2 separate regions of the Homo sapiens genome follow, and region 2 is linked to region 1. The links come from fine-mapping of genetic effects on gene expression. A gene starts in region 1. The other region holds a variant in brackets. All regions are shown on one strand. Distances are between the middles of the regions.

Evidence for each region. PIP is the estimated chance that this variant, and not a neighbour inherited with it, causes the effect.
Region 2: its variant is fine-mapped to the expression of SUPT6H in whole blood (TOPMed, PIP above 0.99). The same link has a PIP of 0.9 or more in blood mononuclear cells.

The regions. Positions count from the first base shown.
Region 1 is chr17:28,659,744-28,664,011 of GRCh38, forward strand. It overlaps SUPT6H (SPT6 homolog, histone chaperone and transcription elongation factor), which reads left to right and starts at 2,462. Exons shown (of 37, transcript NM_003170.5): 1 at 2,462-2,599. SDF2 (stromal cell derived factor 2) reads right to left here and starts at 2,163. Exons shown (of 3, transcript NM_006923.4): 1 at 1,983-2,163. The coding sequence starts at 2,133. RefSeq lists enhancers at 1,850-3,049, 2,411-2,480, 2,578-3,252.
Region 2 is chr17:28,818,858-28,823,125 of GRCh38, forward strand. The region is part of intron 1 of FAM222B (family with sequence similarity 222 member B); the gene reads right to left. Among named protein-coding and RNA genes, the nearest start is that of FAM222B, 22 kb to the right of the region's middle. RefSeq lists enhancers at 3,080-3,581, 3,582-4,081. The variant T/A (reference allele first, on the strand shown) is at 2,109.

The sequences.
Region 1 (4,268 bases):
CTCATATCCCAGACGGGGCGGCCAGGCAGAGGCGCTCCTCACATCCCAGACGATGGGCGGCCAGGCAGAGACGCTCCTCACTTCCTAGACGGGGTGGCGGCCGGGCAGAGGCTGTACTCTTAGCACTTTGGGAGGCCAAGGCAGGCGGCTGGGAGGTGGAAGTTGTAGTGAGCCAAGATCACACCACTGCACTCCAGCCTGGGCAACACTGAGCACTGAGTGAGCAAGACTCCATCTGCAATCCCAGCACCTCGGGAGGCTGAGGCAGGCAGATCACTCGAGGTCAGGAGCTGGAGACCAGCCCAGCCAACACGGCGAAACCCCGTCTCCACCAAAAATACGAAAACCAGTCAGGCATGGCGGCGTGTGCCTGCAATCCCAGGCACTCGGCAGGCCGTGGCAGGAGAATCACGGGAGCCCCAGGCAGGGAGGTTGCAGCGAGCCGAGATCACGGCAGTACAGTCCAGCCTCGGCAACAGAGGGAGACCGTGGAAAGAGAGAAGAGACAAGAGAGGGAGACGGAGAGGGCTACCTGTAGTTCTTAAACAATTGTTGAGGGTCAGGACAAAAGCATTTGTATTTTTAACAAGTTTCTCCAGTTATTCAAATTAATCCCAGATAGAGAATCACAGTTCATTCTGGGCAATTTCATCTACAACCCTGACATCTTCAACCACAGTCTGTACAAGATGTTATATTTAATGTTGTATCTCAGGCTCAGCACAGATCCCTTTTCTGAGCTCCGGACTGAACCTGGTTCCCAAATCTGGCTGTCCATCAGAACCACCTGAAGAGCTTTTTAAACCTACAGATTGCTACTGCCAAGCCTCTGTCCACCTCCACTCTAATTCAGTAGATCCAAAGTAGGAAACCAAAACAAAGTAAAAAATAAGCCTGACAACATGGTAGGTGTTCACTGAATGGGTGCTAGAATTATTAAGACATCGCAGTGATGATAACTCATGTCCTTGCCTAGTCTGACTGATCAGATGGGTTTTGGGAATCATGAACCAGACTAGCCCACCTGACAGAACTCTTTCCTCCCTCAGCAAACAGCATCATCAGTCATTCAAGACAAAAATCTACCAGCTATCTTAGATGCCTCTCACATCTCACTAGCTGACCTTCATTCTTTTTTTTTAACTTTATCTTTTTTTTTCAGGCAGATAAGACTTTCTTTTTTTAGTCTGTTTTTATTATATTGTAATTTTCTTGACTGATTATCACCACCGAATCTCCTGTATGTAGTACAATTCTAGCCATGTAGTAGGAACTCATTAAGACCTATGCTGAATGAATCCACAAATAATTTATTACTAAACATTTTAATTTCAAACGCTAAAAAAAAAAAAAAAAAAAAGCAGTTTTCTCTGCAATTCCTGTCACTGCTCCAAGTTTCTTACAAGAAGGAGGTTAAGGTTTGGGTAGAAGGGGGCCAAAGATGGAAACTGAGGAGCAAGTGTAAGATGCAGAAGAGCTGGAAGACAAAGGGTTGTAGTCAACGAGTGAGCTCTTGGAGTTTAAAGTTTCACAGACAGTACTTACTGTAACTTTAAAATTTCAGACACAGCACTTACTGTAATTTTCTTGTCTCTAAAGCAGGCTTTGAACCTGGATAGATTTGGATAGAACCCCGACTTTGTCATTTGCTAACTGCAAGGCTTTGAATAAACGATTTAATTTCTCTGCGTCTGTTTCCTCATCTGTGAAATGAGGATAACAATACTGTCCACCTTACAACAATGTTAATAATCGGAAAAAGGACATAGGTAACGTGCCTGGCCTGTAGCTCACCAAATATTAGGTGGTGTTGCGATTAAGATGCCTTAGAACAATTCAGTTCTCCGACTCTCTAGACCTGAGGAACCTTCCCAGGGAACCCCTAACTTTCCCAGACCACACTGTCAGATATTCTATAGGCCCCGCCCCTCCAGAGCCTCCGAGTCCTCCCTAGCCCACCCGAGCCCGGTCCCCAGCATTACCTGACCCATAGCGCACGTCGTGTGAGTGCAGTCGGACGTTGTGGCGCGTATTGAGTAGCTTCACCACGGAGCCGCAAGTAACGACACCCAGGCTGGACGCTCCCACAGCGCTCCACAAACCCCCCAACAACAGCAGAGGTACTACAGCCATCCTAACTGTATCGCGGAGCCCCAAATCTTCGAAGAAAACTCGGCCCCTCCCCGGAACCGGAAGCTAATGGCGAAACCACGGAGAGAAGGAAGTGAAGAAGCCCGAGTCTGATCTTTATGGTTTATTTGACTAGAGCGGCCTGAGAAACCGGCTGAGCCTGGTTACTTACGATACTCTCGCTCTGTTCCAGGGGCTCAGTGACAGCTGCCTTCCTGAGCCGCTTCGGTTACCTTTCGCACCCACGAGACGAAAGCTTCCGAGAGCGGGAGAGAGAACAAGAAATGGCCCGCCCACTCCCGGTGACAGGGAGCCGGAAATGACGTAGCACGTTGACGCAGCAGCGGCGGCGGTGGCGGCGGAGGGGCCGTGCGGTGGGTCCGTACTATCTTTTCCCAGTCTCGGTTCGACGACTCCATTTTCCTCGGTGGGGGCTTAGCGCACTGGAGGAGCGGCGGGCTTCAGACAGGTAAAGTTCCGACTGGAGAGCGTGTTTCTCGCAGGAGTCAGGTGGGGAACCGGGCTCCTAGGGCCTGGTCACGTAAGGGAAGAGGCAGTGGGGAGCCGTATGCGGGAAGAAGGGGGAGCCTGGCCTTCCCTGCTCTATGGGGGGAAGGGGGAGGAAAGCGCTGTAGTTGCTCAGAGTCCGAAAGCTTTTCCCAGCCCAGTGACACCCGGAACCCGTGAATCGGGTGGCACGTTGAATCAACAGGCTTCCTGGCATCCCGTCCTTCTCTCCGCAGGTTTTTAAAACTGGGCCACGCAAAAGGATTGGGGATGGAAGGGACCTGGGGCTTCTGAGCCAGGATCAGGTGATCGAGTTGTTTGTTCTGGGGATATGAATCCTGTGGAGCTTTCAGCAGCTCGGCCATCAGGCTAGAGGGCGATGCCAAATTCCAGCTCTTTACATATTGCTGAATAATACAAATAGAACTTTTTGTAGATGGTTGCATCCTTCATCCCTTTCTAAAGATCGAAGGTCTTGTAGAAGTCCTAAAGCCCGTCCATTCTCTATAGATTCATTTCCTCAAACGTTTGCCAGAGGCCTATCATGAACATCAAAATTAGTTATTAAGTCAAAACTCCATCTTCTAGTTTCTACCTTTCTCCTCAGGCACTCCTTTGAACCAGCTGGAGAAGTTAATTTTCCTGGGTTGTTGCAAGAACTGATACTTATTTCAGAGGGCTAAGATCTCTGAAAATACTTCCGTGGAAATTCACTGTAATATCAAAAGTAACAAGGGTGTATGAAGCTACATCATTAATGAGCATTAGGGAGTGTAAACAATATTGAATTTGATTAATTTCTTCGGAAAAATGTCTGGTTCCACTGTTTATCTGGAAGTTACCAGTTTGTAAGTCTTCAGTGTTTTGATTACAGAAACATAACTGCTCTTCCATCAGCTGTGAATTTAGAGCCCTTTTTTACGAGTAATGTCCCTTTCACCAGTACAAGTACATTTTTATTCACTTGGCTTGTGTGGCTGCTAGATTGGATTAGCATAGCCTTGCAACTCTAGGAGGTTTTAACTTCATCAGGAGATTAATTACATCAGAAAGTGGTACCGTCTGGAGAGGCTTAGTCAAATTTTACAGTTCTTCCTCTGAAAGCCTACCTAGTGTGGTGGAAACATGATCTTTGTAGGCAAATACGTTTGCCCTGATTCTATATTCTTGACCTTAATAAATGGCACTACCATCAGTCCTGCCTGTAATCCTTGTCTTCCTTCCTGTCCACTATTTCCCAATAAAATCAGTCACCAAATCCTGTCTCTCCCTGAAACTGTTCCCATCAGCATACAAATTATGTTCTGGTATCCTTCACATCCCTCTCCAATTACCATGCCAATTTTTTAAATTTCCATTCATAGATTTCTACCTGTACCAACTCAGCTTTCTCAACTTTCATTCACTCTTCATTTTATACCAATCTGGCTTCTCTTCTGCCCACTCCATTTTTTTTTTTTTTTTTGTGGAGACAGGGTCTTGCTCTGTTGCCCAGGTTGGAGTGCAGTGGCCCCATCATAGCTCACTGCCACCTGGAACTCCTGAGCTCAAGCAGTCCTCCTGAGGCAGCTTCTAGTAATCAAGTGCCACCACATCTACTTTGCCCACTCCATTGAAGTTGCTCTTATCAA
Region 2 (4,268 bases), 160 kb after region 1:
GACAGCAAACTTGTGAATCGAGCATGATTTGGCATCTTTAAATGCACAGCCAATTCCCTTCTAGTGCCAAAGCCAATGGCTTCTCCTGTAGATAAAATGGCACGGTTCCTGAAAAAGCCCTGGACGCTGTTTCCCCACAATCCTATAATCTGTCAGAAGACAGAAAACAAAAAGAAGGCTGTGCAAGCCAGAAAAAGCAAATTATAACCAACACAGAGCCAACACTTTACTTCAGACAGAAGGAGCTTTTCTATGCATCTTTGGAAAGGAAGAGACAAAAGAAGCTTACCATTGCTCAAATAATCAAGGCAAACAATAAAACAATTTAACCAAACACCATCTGGGATTAGCATTCAATGCAATAGCCTCCCTTCTCACTTCTTATTCATAGCCTTAAGGAATACTAACATCACATAAAAAAGAGTTGAATGCCACAATATACAAAGAACTCTTATAACTAAATAAGAGGAAGACAAATAACCAAAGGGGAAAATATTCAAAGAATATGAGATAGTAAATCACAGAAGAAATACATAAAGTCAAAAATTATATATATATTCCATTTTGTTAGGTAGTGGTGGAAAGTGCCTTCTCCATACAGTCCTAAAGGCATTTTGTCTTGATAGTACTGCCAACTGCAAGCTTCCAGAGAAACTTGGGCTATTTTGAATGAAAAAAATAATGATAAAGATGTCAAGCATAAGTAATACATTCCTAAAAATATTTAGAAGTTTTATGAAATACCTAATCTAGGAAGGAAACTATTCAATATAATGGATACATATAAGCTACAAATTAAATCCAAGAGAACTAAAATATGAATATAAAATGAACCTTTGCCTATGAATGTAAAACAGTTGAAGCCAATCCCTAAGCCTAGAATGAACAAAGCTGATGATGAAAGCAAATAACAGGGAGTCTTACTACAACCACAGAAATAAAACGTCTCTAAGAAAATAAAATTACTCAACTGTCTTTGCTGTGAAAGCATGTCATTCAAGGACCCTTTTAGCAGTCACCAAATGCAAATGCAAAAGCAGATAATGCCTGAGTCCAGCAAAAGCAAGTACAGTCTTCCCATCAAAGAGGAAAAGAAACCTAAGCCTTTCACTTGTCCTTGATACAAAAAGGTAAATGGATTGTGAAAGAACTCAAATTCCAGAAAAAAAGATTCCAGTCCAACCTGCATAAAGCTAAAAAAACTTCATGTTACTTTGTTCTAAAATTAGCAACACACAGGTCCCTATACTAAAAACAATATATACGATCCCAGGTGAGGTGTCAGGGTAAAGTTCCCAGCACGTCAGCAGACTATCCCATAACCATTTCAGTTTTCCCTTTTTGGCTTTTAGACAACATCCCAATTTTCCTCTATTGTTAATGTCACTTAAAAGGCTGAGAAAAATTTAGTTCAACAGATTCAAATTTCAATGTAGTTCCTAAGTACATTACAGGTAATGATGCCACTGATTCTATATTTAGACTCTGGTATGGAACAAGGAGTGTTAGTTTTGTCTAAAATGGTACCATGTCACTCTTCAAAGCCTAACTGCAACAATCACCTAATCCTGCATTAAAATGTCTTTAAGGTGTTACCTATAGCAAGTTAAAATGTTTTTTCAGTGTCTTTTGTGTGTGAGTGTTTCTATTGATTGGCTGTGATGCTATAAATATAGACACAATAAGTCACTCCCATCAGGCCTTTAAACATTCAGCAATGCAAGTACCATAAGGTGGAATTCATTCCTCATCTGAACCAAAAAGCAAAAATGGTAAAACTTTTTTTTTTTTTTTGAGGCGAAGTCTCGCTCTGTCACCCAGGCTGGAGTGCAGTGGCAAGATCTCGGATAACTGCAACCTCTGCCTCCTGGGTTCAAGCAATTCTCGTGCCTTGGCCTCCCGAGTAGCGGGAATTACAGGCGCCTGCCACCACGCCCAGCTAATTTTTTAAAATATTTTTAGTAGAGATGGGTTTTCACCATGTTGGCCAGGCTGGTTTCAAACTCCTGACGACCTTAAATGATCCACCTGCCTCAGCCTCCAAAGTGCTGGGATTACAGGAGTGAGCCACTGCACCCAGTCTGGTAAAACTCTTTTTATTTTATTTT[T/A]TTTTTTTTGAGATGGACTCTCGCTCTGTTGCCAGGCTGGAGTGCAACAGTGCAATCTCGGCTCACTGCAACCTCCCCCACCTGGGTTCAAGCGATTCTCCTGCCTCAGTCTCCCAAGTAGCTGGGACTACAGGCACGCGCCACCACACCCAGCTAATTTTTATATTTTTAGTACAAACGGGGTTTCACCATATTGGCCAGGATGGTCTCGATCTCTTGACCTCGTGATCCACCCACCTCGGCCTCCCAAAGTGCGGGATTACAGGTGTAAGCCACTGCGCCTGGCCAAAACTCTAATAATATGAACATTCTAAAGTGATCTAATAGTACTTATAAAAATATATTGCCTCCTCAAAAGGAATTTAAGGCCTCTCAATAAAAAGCATGTTGCTTATTTTCACAACATCCCAATAAAGAACTATTATTTAGCATTTATATCACACTTTAACTTGCAAAAGTGTTTTACAATTATTTTCATTAGTAGTCATGCATCACAACCACCCAACAAGCCAAAATGGTCCTGTTATCCTCATTTGACAGCTGAGAAAACTGATGTACTTTAAGAACAAGGTCAAGTCAGTCTGCTTTTCTTATAGACCAAGGGCCTAACCCTTATAAAAAGTCTCATTCGCTCACCAGTTACCTGTATTGCTCATAAAAGTAGTTAAAGCAGGTTTTTGGAAATAGGAGTCCATATAAAATAATCGTACAGGGCCGGGTGAGAGGTGGCTCATGCCTGTAATACCAGCACTTTGGGAGGCTGAGGCAGGTGGATCACATGAGGTCAGGAGTTGGAGATCAGCCTGGCCAACATGGTGAAACCCCATCTCTACTAAAAATACAAAAATTAGCTGGGCGTGGTGGCGCATGCCTGTAATCCCAGCTACTCAGGAGGCTGAGGCAGGAGAATCGCTTCAACCTGGGGCTGGGCAGAGGTTGCAGTGAGCCGAGATTGCACCATTGCACTCCAGCCTGGGCGACAGAGCAAGAGTCCGTCTCAAAATAAATAAACAAATAAAATAAAATAATGGCACAAAAACACTGAAAGATACTAATTCAACAAAAATACATAGTCAGGCTGGGTGCAGTGGCTCACGCCTATAATCCCAGCAATGGTGCGATCTCGGCTCACTGCAACCTCCCCCACCTGGGTTCAAGCGATTCTCCTGCCTCAGTCTCCCAAGTAGCTGGGACTACGGGCACGCGCCACCACACCCAGCTAATTTGTATATTTTTAGTACAGACGGGGTTTCACCATACTGGCCAGGATGGTCTCGATCTCTTGACCTCGTGATCCACCCACCTCGGCCTCCCAAAGTGCGGGATTACAGGCATGAGCCACCACGCCCGGCCTAAAAGTATTTTTTAAAAAGGCCAGGCAGCACAGTGGCTCACGCCTGTAATCCCAGCACTTTGGGAGGCCGAAGGCAGGTGGATCACCTGAGGTCAGAAGTTCAAGACCAGCCTGGCCAACATGGTGAAACCCCGTCTCTACTAAAAATACAAAAATTAAGCTGGGCGCAGTGGCATAAGCCTGTAATCCCAGCACTTTTGGGAGACTGAAGTAGGAGAATCGCTTGAACCCGGGAGGCGGAGGTTGGAAAGAGCCGAGATTGCACCATTGCACTCCAGCCTGGGCAACAAGAGCGAAACTCCACCACAAAAAATAATAATAATAATACAAAATTAGCCGGGCATGGTGGCAGGCGCCTGTAATCCCAGCCACCTGGGAGACTGAGGCAGAGAGAACTGCTTAAAACCCAGGAGGTGGAGATTGCACTGAGCTGAGATCACGCCACTGCACTCCAGCCTGGGCGATAGAGCAAGACTCCATCTCAAAAAAAAAAAAAAAAAAAAAAAAAAAAAAATATATATATATATATATATATATATATATATACACACATATATATATATACACACACACATATATGAATATAGAATTAGCCAGGCGTGCTTCCATGCGCAGGTAGTCCCAGCTACTCAGGAGGCTGAGGCAGGAGAATCACTTGAACTCGGGGCAGAGGTTGCAGTGAGCCAAGATCACGCCACTGCACTCCAGCCTGGGCAAGAGACTGAGACTCCATCTTGGGGGGAAAAAAAAAACATATTCAACTGGAATACAAACAGGTAAGTACTTAGTTACAATGACACAGGAAG